Homo sapiens: one gene and its partners. The protein of the gene in region 2 purifies or fractionates together with the protein of the main gene of each other region. This does not show direct contact. Each region holds a gene or a part of one and is shown on either strand. Other genes may lie near its edges.

The links. The genes of interacting proteins can lie anywhere in the genome.
Region 1: the proteins of ITGB8 (region 2) and RHEB purify together in Homo sapiens (affinity purification with mass spectrometry, with the first as the bait; one large-scale study listed by BioGRID). This does not show direct contact.
Region 3: the proteins of ITGB8 (region 2) and PAK3 purify together in Homo sapiens (affinity purification with mass spectrometry; one large-scale study listed by BioGRID and IntAct). This does not show direct contact.
Region 4: the proteins of ITGB8 (region 2) and PARL purify together in Homo sapiens (affinity purification with mass spectrometry; one large-scale study listed by BioGRID and IntAct). This does not show direct contact.

Annotation. Positions count from the first base shown.
Region 1 is NC_000007.14:151,474,896-151,478,395, forward strand, and holds part of RHEB (GTP-binding protein Rheb), read right to left. Parts: intron 2,521-3,500; coding exon 2,438-2,520; intron 1-2,437. UniProt on the Homo sapiens protein: Small GTPase that acts as an allosteric activator of the canonical mTORC1 complex, an evolutionarily conserved central nutrient sensor that stimulates anabolic reactions and macromolecule biosynthesis to promote cellular biomass generation and growth.
Region 2 is NC_000007.14:20,337,400-20,340,899, forward strand, and holds part of ITGB8 (integrin beta-8 precursor), read left to right. Parts: intron 1-2,873; exon of another isoform or gene 2,874-3,069; intron 3,070-3,500. UniProt on the Homo sapiens protein: Integrin alpha-V:beta-8 (ITGAV:ITGB8) is a receptor for fibronectin. It recognizes the sequence R-G-D in its ligands.
Region 3 is NC_000023.11:111,094,941-111,098,990, reverse strand, and holds the start of PAK3 (serine/threonine-protein kinase PAK 3), read right to left. Parts: upstream 2,801-4,050; 5' UTR 2,576-2,800; intron 2,449-2,575; exon of another isoform or gene 2,254-2,448; intron 1,602-2,253; 5' UTR 1,535-1,601; intron 1,417-1,534; 5' UTR 1,307-1,416; intron 1-1,306. UniProt on the Homo sapiens protein: Serine/threonine protein kinase that plays a role in a variety of different signaling pathways including cytoskeleton regulation, cell migration, or cell cycle regulation.
Region 4 is NC_000003.12:183,864,381-183,867,880, forward strand, and holds part of PARL (presenilin-associated rhomboid-like protein, mitochondrial isoform 1 precursor), read right to left. Parts: coding exon 3,485-3,500; intron 2,386-3,484; coding exon 2,245-2,385; intron 1-2,244. UniProt on the Homo sapiens protein: Required for the control of apoptosis during postnatal growth. Essential for proteolytic processing of an antiapoptotic form of OPA1 which prevents the release of mitochondrial cytochrome c in response to intrinsic apoptotic signals.

The DNA.
Region 1 (3,500 bases), about 130 Mb from region 2:
TATTTGTGTATTCAGCATATAGGTTTCTAAAAAACAAAACACCACTCTTCTCACACTCATGTTTGAGATTTGAGAATGCTCATTAAACTATGAGTTACTGAGGTAAAAGGCATATAACAAAAGAAAACACACCCATTTTAGTAAGGAGAAACTTGGTCAAAACTTGCAACAGTGCCACTGAGAAGACACAGTACCAAGCTTTTTGTCCTCTGCTTTGCACTAGGCCAGTGTTTTCTCAAATACATAAGGTCCTTGGTGAGCACACTTTCATATTTTTAATCCAGCTCAATGTATTTTTCAATTTCCCCAGTGGCACATGCTATGTTTTCAACTTGATTCTATAATGTCATCTAATTTGTGCACACCAAAAAAGAGACTTAAAAAAAATCAGTGGATGCACTAAGAAAATTTTCTACCTACTACTTTAATGCCTCAAAGTAACAATTTGTAAAGTAACACCAACACTGTTTTCTAAAAATCAGCTAGGATAAAATTGTACTTACCAACAACAAAACAATCTTTGAATCATGTTTTTCAAGTAAATTAGTAAAATAATGGAAATTCATAAACAAACATGAACTTCCAACATTCATTAGATTATTGGTACACTAAATTTGTTCTGGACAAGGCCTTACACGTGGCAGTATATACATTTTAAAAATATACAACTGAAATTAAAAAAATCTTTGTATAAAAATGGCCAATAGTTTTACTATTTAAAGTGCTCTTATAAGTCAGTAAGAAAATGATCATGTTTCCAAATACTAAGTACACAGTGGTTTTAAGCATAAAATCCAATCCAAGCATTGCTTTCAGTGACAATATAAATAAATACATTAAACAGGAAGAGAGATATCCATCTATCATTGAACATGAAATATTATAAAGCCATTTACTATTTCAAATACTAGGTAATATGGAAAAATATATATTACATGGTAAGTAAAAATATAAAAACATGGAAAATATAAACCATAAAACAGCATTCAGAGAGCAAATAAAAGGATGTTAAAACAATCCATGCAGACTAAAACAAAGACCAGAAAAAACATATACCAAGATATTAACAGTATCTATGCTTAGGTAATTAGATTAAGAATGATTACCCTCACTTTCTATTTTTCACAGTTCCTCAATTTTCCTTAAGGAACACATAATTCTGGTACTTGGTTTTGATTCAGGTGTAAACTTTCTCGGGGATTGACAGTATGGGGTCTGTTTATAAGAATGGCCGAGAATGGTACTCAAACATTTTATAGCTAGAACTCAACACCCTAAAGTATGTTTCTCTGCCACGGAGAAAAATGTTAAACAACACACTCACAGAGCAGCAGACTGAATTTTCACTGGCAGTGGAGTATGTGGGGGTAAGGAACCCAGACACTGGCCAACATGGCAGCCTCCAGCCACATGTGGCTACTGAGCACCTGAAATGGGGCTACTGTAACCGAGGGAGGCTTAATTTTCCATTTTTAGTTAAACAGCCACCTGCAGCACAGAGAGCAAACACTTCTATCACCGCAGTAAGTTCTATTGGACAGTGTCAGCCTTGACTGTGGAACTGGAGAGATGGCTATGAATCCCAGCAATGTCATTATGTAGCCCTGGGCAAGCTGCTTTAGGTCTCTGTCACTCAGTTTCTTTCCACGTAAAGTGGGATATAAAACATCTCTGATGAAGGATTAAGGTAATGATGAAATAAGTAATGTATCATATGTAGGCAAAGAGAGTAGCAAACTCCCTAACATGTCGCACACACTCAATAGATGCTACGTAGCCACCAAACGCCCTCCACTGGCACTGATATTTTCATAAAGTCTTCAAACATAAGCTGTCACCAATGCCCAGAGCTCCGCTGCTGTATACAGCCAGCTGTTCTGTTAACAGACACAGACCACTGCTCCTCCTGATAATACATGCCATCCCCCGATAAGAGGAGACATGAAATACGTAGCTAGAGGAACCGATATCCATTCTTATTAATAAAAATAGTGGCTTTGTTTTTATGTAGTAAAGTCAGACTCTATTACCAAAAGGTCTTATTTCATAAATTCAAAGGATAAGATATTGAACAAACCCAAACCCCCACATTTTATTAGAAAGTCTATTTCACCTTAATATGGTAAAAACACACACAAAGTAAAATTAATTTAGGCATTTCCCATTTCAATTAGCAGAAAAGCTTAGATCATGCTGAACCACTGTTTTTCTAGGTAGCTTGAGGTAAGAAAGAGCCTTTTATCCTATTGGTGTAACTAACAGAACATCTAGTGGGCCATGTTTCCCAGCAATCCAGTTGCTCCACGAGAAAATCACTAAAAAACATGTAGCCTAATAATTCTAATTGTCACTATTAATAATTCCAGCACAGTCCCTTAAAAGGATCAATGTTATCTATGAGTAGCAAATCAACTCAAGCAGGCAGCAGGAGTCTTACCTTTTGATTGATGTAACAGAATACACAAGAATATAGCCATTAATATCTATGGAGTATGTCTGAGGAAAGATAGAATATTCATCCTGTGGGGAAAAAAAATTATCTTTGAGTAGTCTTCATATAGCATCACAAACAAACTTTACCCAAAGTTTTTCATGTATTACCTGAAGAAATCAAAGTAGACGCAGAGTGGATTACAATATTATGCCAGAAACAGCCTACAAAGTGAAGCTTTAAGAATGGCCTGGAGGTGATAATGTGGTTCAAGCCAATATTTAAAAATGACTAGCTGTTCTAGAACTTTAGGGGAAAGTCTGATGACCTTCATAATTTCTGGGAGAAGAGGATGGATGGAACACAAAAATCATTGGCTCTGTGATCTCAAAACAAGGGATGAGCATCACTAACTCCAGAACCTTCTAGACCTCAGGACATTTATAAATCCTGCTGATTTATCCCATAAATCTGTATTTTTATATTTGAAACTGGCATATTATTTGATTTATTCTCTGCATGTCAGTCACAATGACCTGAGCTTCAGTCTACAGGTTGCTAGAGGGGTGCCATCAGCATCTGAAGGAGAGAGGGAGAGAGGGAGGGAGGTGGGGGAGAGAGAGAGAAACAGAGAAAGAGAAAAGAGGATCAAAACACCAGGTTCAATTGAGGTATTCAGACTTTTGGGGACCAAGAGAGTTATTTACTGAGCAACTCTAGGAATTAAAGAGAAAGGTACCTATTACGCAACAGCACAGTAGTCTTTAGTTTTATAAAGCAGCGTTATGACACTTTGCTTTATATACGTATTAAAGCATACAGAAAGTTCTGATGTCAGTGCAGTTTTCAACAGCACGCGCCACTGTCTGGTACGAACGTTTCATTCTTAGTTGAAACTAAATTGTCAACATAACACATGTCCTAAGCACTATTATGGAAAAATCACATCATGGTACCAGAAGATTAAGCAGCAGTCTATTATTTTTGTAAACTTATAGTATGGTTATAACCACTGTTTATGACAGCCCAGAATTACTGCCCTATGGTAAAGTTCTTTAAAGAAAAAAAA
Region 2 (3,500 bases):
GCACATACAGCTTTATGACAGGCACTATACTGAGTTCTGGAGTTAAAAAATAACAACGATTAAGTTTTGTGTATTATTTACTGTAGGCCAGGCACCCTCCTGGACACATTATTTGAAAATATAATATATCCTTTAATGCTTACAACCCTGTTAGTTATATACTGTTATTCCCATTGTATAGGTAAGCAAACTAATTCAAGAGGCATTGTATAACTTCTTCCAGATCTCTTAACTAATAAATAATGGTCCCAGAATTCCGATCTGTGTGGTTTGAGTCAGCATTCTGAATCATAATTATAGACATATAGATTGCTTTTCAAAGGTGAGAGGAGTCCCTACCTTGAACCTTGGAAGGTTCAGCTCTAGCTGTCCTCAGGCCATTGACCTCAACCATGGGCAGGGAGTCCATGGGGCTTGCTCAAGTAAAGTCTGTCACCCCCTCTAGATCATCTCCAGAATTCTTAGCCTAAACAGCCTCAGACTACTTTTATGGCCTGCCTTCTGGGGGTAAACTGAGTCACCCCTGTGCCAAATCCTAGGTGAAGATGGCCAAGGACACTGATGCAGGAGAGGTAAACAGAGCTTGGACATGCAAGCTGAAGTGTCCATGCAGGTAAACAACAGGCTACCTGTGCTGCAGAATAAATTTAGAGGTGGGAGAGAAGAGGGGAAGATAATGGCTGGAGAGGCAACGCTTCACACACTGCCCAGTTCCTAACTAGAAATCTGGAGGTGAATATTCCAAATTCAGACCTAGCCTTCCAGGTCATTATGCATATATATTTATCAAGGAAGGAAGATAGAACTTATTTTACCTATGGGTTTCTTTGCCTGGTTTGTAGCTGTTAAATATGTAGTCTGTTATGCTCACTGCTATTTGTGTTCTTGCTGTTGGCCCTGAAACAGTTAGGGGCAGACTTGTCTACTAGTTTAAATATTACTGGGGGCCGGTTGCAGTGGCTAACAACTGTAATCCCATCACTTTGGGAGGCTGAGGTGGGAGGAACACTTGATGTCAGGAGTTCGAGACCAGCCTGGCCAACATGGAGTAAAGACCAGCCCGTCTTTACTAAAAATACAAAAATTAGCGGGGCATGGCAGTGCGCACCTGTAGTCCCAGCTACTTGACAGGCTGAGGCACAAGAATTGCTAGATCTCAGGAGGTTGCAGTGAGCCAAGATCATGCCACAGCACTCCAGGCCTGGGCAACAGAGCAAGATTGCATCTCAAAAATAGATAAATAAATAATAAACAAATAAATATTATTGAGCCGGGGAGACAAAGAAAGCACCAGAGACCATTGCATAAGGTAGTCTGGTAGTCTTGACTACCTCATGTCAAAGTGTTTTTATATTTTAATAACTAAATCCCTTTTGGTAATCTTTGAGATGTGTACAGATTATACAAAATTTTACTCTCTTGCAAATCATGTTACAATGAGAGTCAAATGTATGCATAGTCTTAATTTAGTTTTACTTATTTCCCTCTATTATTTTAAAAAATATCTTAGAAGGCTGGCCACAGTGGCTCACACCTGTAATCCCAGCACTTTTGGAGGCAGAGGTGGGTGGATCACGAGGTCAGGAGTTCGAGACCAGCCTGGTGAACAGGGTGAAACCCTGTCTCTACTAAAAATACAAAAATTAGCTGGATGTGGTTGCACACACCTACAGTCCCAGCTACTCAGGAGGCTGGGGCAAGAGAATCATTTGAACCCATGAGATGGAGGTTGCAGTGAGCCGAGATCGTGCCATTGCTCTCCAGCCTGGCGACAGAGCGAGACTCCATCTCGAAAAAAAAAAAAAAAAACAACTTAGGAAAGAACATTTTACTGACATGAATGACCTAATTTGGTCAAATTATTCAGTTGGCATATATTTGATATTTAATATCTATAAGTGAATGACTATATAGAAAAAGCAGTGCCATACTATATTCATGGAGTAAAAGGACTATTTTTCGACTTAAAGTGAATCTTAATGTGACCTTATTTCCTCTTTCGCAGTAAGTAAATTATTTGATTTACACACCAAAAAAGTGTATTGAAAGTCAGAATGATTTCCATTGGGATTTTATAATTTAATTAAAACAGACCCACCTTTTAACAAAAGTGCTAAGATCAATTCTTGCTAGGAAACTACTAATATTAAACAGATATATTTAAATTATCTTCCTGCAGTTATTGAAAAAAGTCCTTAACTAATATTAGTTTAGGAAACAAAAATAAGATTATTAACTTAAAATTGCATTGTTAAAGTGTTCTTATCAGATATATACTTTTAAGATGATTTTTAAAGATGCTTCTATTTTGAGTGCTATTATCCAAAGTACTAAAAGTTCATTTTAGGCCAGGCGCGGTGGCTCACATCTGTAATCTCAGCACTTTGGGAGGCCAAGGTGGGTGGATCACCTGAAGTCAGGAGTTCAAGACCAGCCTGGCCAATATGGTGAAACCCTGTCTCTACTAAAAATACAAAAATTAGCCGGGCATGGTGGCAGACACCTGTAATCCCAGCTACTTGGGAGGCTGAGGCAGGAGAATCGCCTGAACCCGGGAGGCGGAGGTTGCAGTGAGCCGAGATTGTGCCACTGCACTCCAGTCTGGGAGAGAAAAAGCGAGACTTTGTCTAAAATAAAATAAAATATAAAAGTTTGTTTTATAAACAGCATATAGGGTCTTATAAAGTGGCCTTTCATGCTGACCTCATCAATGAGCCAACCATCACTGCTATAATGGTTTTAGACGTGCGCTATCTCTGCCTGGTGTTTTATTGATGTTTTGCTTTGTTGTAATCAAATAATACTGTTACATTTGTTAAGGACAGAATCTGTTGCTATTCCAGATAAATATTGGTATCGTTTGTTTATTCTAGAGGATTGCCAAAAAATTCACAGTCTCGTGATAGTACAGGGTAAGAAAGCAGAGTAGCTGTCAAGGGCTAGTTCAAGTCAAAGCCTATGGAAGAGACCGAGTTTGGAAGTGGAGAGAAGGGCTGGTGATGAAGACAGGAGGATGAAAAACTAGAAATATTCCAGCTCTGAAGAACTGTACCAAATATGTCATATTAGGTATGTGAGATGTGTGGTGGATTTGGGCCAGGAATGTTTTGGTGTTTTCCATGGTTTTGGACTCAACTTCCTTTTAGGATAAAGCGGGTTGAAATTTCAAGATCTGCCGATAGTAAATGAAGCCACAGTTAAAAGTACTGCTGTTTCATGTGTACATGTGGTATCAGGGATCTTTCCTTGGAATTGAACCACAAACAGCTTCCCAGGTAAAGGCATTTTTTTTTCCTGATTTTAGTAAGGACCATATATTTAGGATTATTTCTTAGTAACTGTTACAGGTACTAGGTAGGGAAGGGGGCTGGGTGAAAAGCTTCATCCTTATGGAATGAGGGATTACCACTATGCTGTAAAGGATCATTAGAATATTATGAGGTCAAACAAAGAAAATAATTAAAAGGAAAATTCAAAATTCTACAAGGACTGGATTGACA
Region 3 (4,050 bases), on a different chromosome or scaffold from region 2:
TGCCGACTTGGCAGACGAGTCCATTCCAGGCCCTGCAGAGGGAAACGCCTAGCCCCCGGCAGGTGGGGGTGGGGGTGGGGGACGCGTAGCGGAGGCTTAAGTACGCCCCAGATGCCTAGAACGCTGCACTTACCTTCCGAAGTAAAGGTTTTACACAGTTCCCTGCGCACACAGGGTCCCCAGGGATCCTGAGAAGGAGGGCTTTTTTTCTTTTTTTTTTTTGAGCAGGGGTCCCAGACCAGGCCCCAGCCCACCCATGTAAAAGCAGTCAACCTACCTGTCTAGGCCAGATTGATAGCGCCTCCACTTCCCTTTGAGGCACCGTCCTTCCCCACTGCCCTCTCCTTACCCAGGAGGAAAGAGCCAGTTGTTGAGGCTGCTGCTCATTGAGTTTCTTGTTCTCTTGGTTAAAGCTACTGGTTCCTGAAGGTGGGTTACGTGGGTGGGGATGCTGTTGATTTTAAATATCTAGAATCATCCTTCTAATTCTTGGCTGAGCTACAGCTGCCTCAACCTCCAGAGTTGCCTATCTCACCAGAGAATTCAGGGCTTTTGGGTTGTTGGTAAGGCCACGACTTTTCTTCTCTCTCTCTCTAGTTTGCTCCTGCCTTCCTGCCTACTACATCTGATCTGTACACCTGATTTTTTTTTTTTTTTTTGCCTTGGCCACCTTCTTTAACCTTAATTTAGTAGCTTAGTCTCTGAACACATAATAGCAAACTCTCGGATGTCAGCACCTTCCCATCCCTGCAGTTCTTTTTATTTCTCGTTTCCCTCACCTGGTATGTCCACCACTCACCCTCTCCCAAGACCTCAGCAAACTTGTTTGCCCTATATACCATTTCCACCTCTGACCAGGAAATTCTGCAACCTGTGGGAATGGTTAGCTGGTGAGAATGTCCCTAGGGTCCTGTGTCCCCTAGCTTATAACCCTATTGCATGTGAACCTCCTTTTCCTGTCAGATCTCTCCTACAAGGCCCAGCTGCCTGTCCGGAGACTTGCAGGGTCAGCTCCTTGACATCCTAAGGTCTCTCTGACCTCAGGATTCTCAGCTGTCAGCTCTTGCCCAGGCTACCTCCTAGTCTCTTCCCATTTTGCTTCTTGCATGGGCTGGGGGATATGACACTTGTATCCAGAAACAGAGGCTTACAAATGGCTCTCTCTCCAAGCCTCTGCCTGTTAGTCATTCATTACCATATCAAGTCTTTTTGCCCAAAGTTGCCCCTGATTGGAGGCCTCAAGTACCAAATCACAGATCTTGCCCAATTATAATTTTGCAAATGGCCCAGTGAAAACCGCACTGACCTTTACACCTTGCTCATCCCAGAACAGGGCCACGGTGTTGTCACCAACAGGAATGGACCTCCTTCTGTTCCAATACCTCAGACAGCCATACACTTGGCCTGGATTTGAGTCTGCAAAACCATGAGGGGAGCAAGACTAACATGGCTAAAGGCTTCCCTGCTGAAAGCCGTTTTTTAAAAATAGCACTGCAACCGCCCCCATCATGCTTCCCAAAGCCAAGCCACTCACCCTTCTCTCCTTCGCTTCTACAGACCAACAGCCCAGAACCCTCAAGTCTAGAATCTGGAACTGGATTCTGAAAGGTGGGACCAAAAAAAAAAAAAAAAACAAGTGGGGCCTCTATCTCTCTCCTTGCCTGCATCCCCCTCTTCCCACCATCCCCCACCCCACCCCACCCCTTAACCACCACCTAGGGAAGGAAAACTTGCCAGAGTAAGAATCTAAAATGTTCAGTTCACCCAAAAGTGCGGCAGTAATCTTGCCAGAGCCAGTTCACAAACTGAGGGCAATGTCCCCCAGCGAGCTAAGGGGAACAGGAGAGAAGGAGAGGCAGTGGACCCAATGACACTGCTCCCCAGACAAAGAGAGGGCCAATCCAGGGACCCTGAGCTTTCTGGGGGCGTTATTGCATCATTCCAATCCCCACAGGAGAAGAAAAGGGTCCCCCTGTTATTACCATCCCCCCACCAAAAAAAGGGGAGGGGGATAAAGAAAAATAAAAGAAAGAGGGGAAGGCGCCCGTTTAAGAAAATCGTCACTTTTTCTCTTTCCTCGTGTGTGTGTGTGTGTGTGTGTGTGTGTGTGTGTGTGTGTGTAAGGGGCGGGGGGGTTCTACCCCGGACTTGGCCAGACCGTGGCCACACCCCCTCCCCTTTTCTAGGGAACTGCTGTCACAGCTACTGGGGCTGGGTAGGGGGGCGGGCGGGGGGGTGAAAGGGAAGACTTACAGGCTGACGTAGCTTTCAAGGCGGGTTTTGCCTCAAGCGGCCCAGGCCCCAGTAAACGAGTCTAGGGTTTGACCAAGCGAAGGAGCCCCGGCCCTCTGGGAACGGCCCTGACACACCCACTTGTCCGCGAACTGGGATCATGCAAACTGCTCGCTTGGTCTCAGGGCTCCGGGGAGCCACGTAGGAGACTCGAGGCTGGGGCACAAACAGGACAGGAGGGGGGTCCGGAAAGGCAGAACATCTGCCCAGCAGCCTTAAAGCATCATCCAACAGCCACCCCCTCCCCCGCGGTAGCCCGGGTGCAGTTAGTCGCGGGATTTACCTGCCACGGATCCAGCCACCCCGTCAAGACCTTTCCTCTACCTCCGAGCGCTCCAGCTGGCGGGGCTGGGGAGCCGCAGCCCCGCGGCCGCAGCCGCAGCCCCGGGCCCAGCCCGCTCCCCCTGGCTCTTCTCCCGCCCCCGCACACTGGCTCGAGGCGGGGAAAAGCTGCAGCCCCCAGTGCGAGATCCCAGACGGTTAGCTGGCACAGCTGCCCGCCCGCGGTAGAGCCCCTGCTCGGCAACCGCTCCCTAGCCCTTCTCTGCTATTACGTCACCCGAGCTCTGCACCTTACCTAGGCCAATCAGATGGTGAGCATAAAACTAAAATCGCCCTGAGTGGGCTACTGGGGACCAATCTTTTGTTTCCAGGCAGGAAGCGCCTGGGAGGGGGAAAAAACTGAAGGGGAGGGAACATGGAGAGGGAAAGGGAAAGGAGATGGAAACTTCTACACTGTCAGGGTTGTCTAGACAGAGGTGGGGCCATCAAAAAAGAGGGGCACCTGACAGGATGGAGAGGAGGGGAGAGTTCATGTATCTTCCTTAATTGCTCCCCTCAGGAGAATTGAGATTTCAGATGAATTTTCAGGGGACGAAATCTGTACAGCTACACGGGCACACTTTATTCGGGGGAAAAAACGGTTTCGATTTGGGACACCACCTGTCAGCCAGGCAGGTTAAACTGACGGAATCTCTAAAATACACAGAAAACTAAGAGAGACAGATGTGGCAGTGGAATTCAAAGAGATGGCAGTCTAGATCGGGAAACTACTTTTCTGCATATGAAGCACACACATTCCAAAAAGCAAGGAATTATACAAAAAATAAAAATAACTCTACTTCAAATGGAGCTTAAATGCGATTCTCTCTGTCCATCCTTTCCCTTAAACCTTCAAAGCTTTCTCTTGTCTTTAGGATACGGTTCAAATTTTTGCAGATGGCCAAAGCTTTATAAAATCTAACTCCAAAAATAATCTCTTGCTACTCCAAAATCCATACTCCCCATGATTTGGCTAGATTATGTAAATTATGGTGAATCCCAGCAAGGCGACAGTAAGCTGCCATAAAAAGTCAAATAATACAAAACAATAAGGACATTCAAATTATAATGATGTAAAATATGCCTACAGAAAACGATCAGAAGAGGACATAAAATTGTAACCGTTGGGTTAAACTAGTAGTATTATGAGTAACTTTTTCTTTCTACTTTCAAATTTATTTTCATAAAGATAAATATATCCTCACATACTTAAATGGCCAAAATAGATCATGACCCTTCCCAGTGAACTTTTATTCAATTTTCTCCACACTGTGTAACATCCAGCAATAATTTCTCCATAATGCCAACAAAATAGGTTTCAAGAACAAGAGTGAACTAATATATCTGCCCAGGTCCTTTTAGTAAAAGTCGTACAAAAGAGCTACAGATGACCACACGCGGTGGCTCACACCTGTAATCCCAGCACTTTGGGAAGCC
Region 4 (3,500 bases), on a different chromosome or scaffold from region 2:
GCAATGTGTCATTAAAAAAACAGAAGTGCTTGAAAACCAAATGGGCCTGAAACCACATATTAACTAAAATCTCAGTGTTCAATATGTATTGGTGAATAAAAGAAATAAAATATTGGCTGGGCTCGGTGGCTCATGCCTGTAATCCCAGCACTTTTGGAGGCCGAGGTGGGCAGATCACGAGGTCAGGAGATCGAGACCATCCTGGCTAACACGGTGAAACCCCGTCTCTACCAAAAATACAAAAAATTAGCCGGGCGTGGTGGCGGGCACCTGTAGTCCCAGCTACTCCGGAGGCTGAGGAAGGAGAATGGCGTGAACCCGGGAGGCAGAGCTTGCAGTGAGCAGAGATCGCGCCACTGCACTCCAGCCTGGGCAACAAGTGAGACTCTGTCTCAAAAGAAAAAAAAAAAGAAACAAAATACATGTTTTATCTAAAAGCAAACATTTTTAAGAAATCAGTTAAGAAAGAGGGCCATCGACTTGCATATAAAGTAAATGAAAAGCTCTAAAAGCTCCATATTTCTTTTTTTTTTTTTTTTTTCCGTATTTCATCTCGAGCACAGTTTAGAGACACTCAACAGCAGGTATTTACCACAGGTGTGTAAATATCATGTCACTGAGAAACGTTTAAAACTCCTCTTGGGGCCAGGCACAGTGGCTCACACTTGTGAAATTCCAGCACTTTGGGAGGCCAAGGTGGGAGATCACTTGAGGTCAGGAGTTTGAGACCAGCCTGGGCAACAAAGTGAGACTCCTGTCTCCACAAAAAATGAAATAATTGGCCCAGCATGGTGGCACACGCCTGTAGTCCCAGCTACTCAGGAGACTGAGGCGGGAGGACTGCTCAAACCCAGGAGTTTGAGGCTTCAGTGAGCTATGATCCCATTACTGCACTGAGGCCTAGGTGACAGAGTGGGACGCTGTCTCTTAGAAAAAAAAATCACTTGCTAGCTCTATCCCTAAGGCATGTATATTTTGAAAAATTCCCTGCAGTTCAAATACGTACTCTAAAGCCAGGGTCCCCAACAACCCGGCTGCTGACCACTAGTGGTCCGTGGCCTGTTAGGAACTGGGCCACACAGCAGGAGGTGAGCAGTGGGAGAGCATTACCACCAGAGCTCTGCCTCCTGTCAGATCAGTGGCTGCATAAGATTCTCACATGAATGCAAACCCTACTGTGAGATGCACATGTGAGGGATCTAGGTGGCACGCTCCTTATGAGAATCTAATGCCTGATGATCTGAGGTGGAACAGTTTCATCCCATAACCATCTGCCCCCCTGCAACCCCGACCTGTGGAAAAATTGTCTTGCACAAAACCAGTCCCTGGTACCAAAAAGGTTGGTGACTGCTGCTCTAAAGCAATCCATCAAGGTGATCCAAGTAAAACAGTGGCCTTTAAACTTTAGTAGAGCTGAGATCCACTGAGATCCTTAAACTTTAGTAGAGCTGAGACATCCTCCACGCAGAAACATTAACAACTATTAACATTAATTTCTTTTCTTTTTTTTTTTTTTTGAGATGAGTTCTCGCTCTGTCACCCAGGCTGGAGTGCAGTGGCACAATCTCGTCTCACTGCAACCTCTGCCTCTTGGGTTCAGGCGATTCTCCTGCCTCAGCTTCCTGAGTAGCTGGGGCCACAGGCATGCACCACCACGCCTGGCTAATTTTTGTATTTTCAGTAGAGATGGGATTTCACTATGTTGGCCAGGCTGGTCTCCAGCTCCTGACTGCCTTGGCCTCCCAAAGTGCTAGGATTATAGACTTGAGCCGCTGTGCCCGGCCAACGTTAACATTTTTAACAACTATCCGTGGTGATTTTTGATGCATGTGGGTAGAGGGACAGAATTCTGGAACACTGTTAAGTACAACACCAGATATATAAAACAGTAATCAATACTTACTGTGAAGAATATTAAGTGCACTGACTTGACATCTATTAATCTGATGTTGCCATTAACTAAAAGCACTTCATAAATAACCAGGCTTCAAAACCTGGGATTACCAGTAGAGTAACTACAGTCAACTATAATCTATAGTACATTTCAAAATAGCTAGTGGAGAACAATTCAAATATACCTAGCATAAAGATAAATGTTTAAGGTGATAGATATTCAGTTCCTCAGATTTCATTATTACACATTATGTGAATGCATCATGTACACTGAAAACACGTGCATCTATTAAGTATCAGTTTTTTAAAACCGTGATTAACTAGAAGAAAGAAAGCAGTGTTTATCTTTACCTCCTTTCTGAAGTCTCCTTCTTTTTGTGGTCTTATGCTATCCAACCAATCAGCTTTTATACCATCAAAATAACTCTGGACCCTGGATTTCAGTGATTCATATTGCCAAATAGCAGCTGATCCAAATGCACAGCCTGTAAACTATATAAAATTAGATATATTACAAAATAGATTTAAGAGGGAAATAGATCTATACATTATTTCCAAGGAGAATTCTTCACTGTCATTGCTTTTTACAAACCAACAGAAGGGAATACTTGGCACAGTGAAACCTAATAAGTGAAAAGGGCTTTTTTTTTTCTTTTTGAGATGGAGTTTCACTCTTGTCTCCCAGGCCAGACTGTAATGGTGCGATATGGGCTCACTGCAACCTCTGCCTGCCAGGTTCAAGTGATTCTCCTGTCTCAGCCTCTGGAGTAGCTAGGATTACAGGTACCTGCCTCCAGGCCCGGCTAATTTTTGTATTTTTAGTAGAGACGGGGTTTCATCATGTTGGCCAGAGGGGTCTCGAACTCCTGACCTCAGGTGATCCACCCACCTTGGCCTCCAGTGCTGGGATTACAGGCATGAGCCACTGTGCCTGGCCAAAAAGGACATTTTATTGTTTCCCATTGTATTAACTTCACAATACCCTGGGGCCTGTTTCCAGCTATAAATCCTCAAATAAAACTGAAAATACCAACTTAGCACCGCTTGAAATGCTGTACCAAACAAGGCCCATATGTTTATTCTCTAGGGCTTACATAAGTAAGCCAGAATTTAATAATAAAAGCAATTTTTAAGTTCAGACTCTAGGCCGGGCGCAGTGGCTCACTCCTGTAATCCCAGAACTTTGGGAGGCCAAGGCGGGCGGATCATGAGGTCAGGAGATCGAGACCATCCTGGCTAACAAGGTGAAACCCCGTCTCTACTAAAAATACAAAAAATTAGCCAGGCGTGGTGGCCAGTGCCTACAGTCCCAGCTACTTGGGAAGCTGAGGCAGGAGAATGGTGTGAACCCAGGAGGTGGAGCTTGCAGTGAGCCGAGATCGCGCCACTGCACTCCAACCTGGGCGACAGAGTGAGACTCCGTCTCAAAAAAAAAAAAAAAAATTCAGACTCTATAATTAGAATTCATGAGCCCAGCTCTTTTTGATCCCCCCTCTACCTGTCCTTACTTTAAGGGAGCCCAAATGGGACAAAGTACTTTAACACTGCATTTCTAGCAAGGTAGGTAACTCCTAGCAAAGTGAGCTCTTACCCCAACAGTAAAAAAT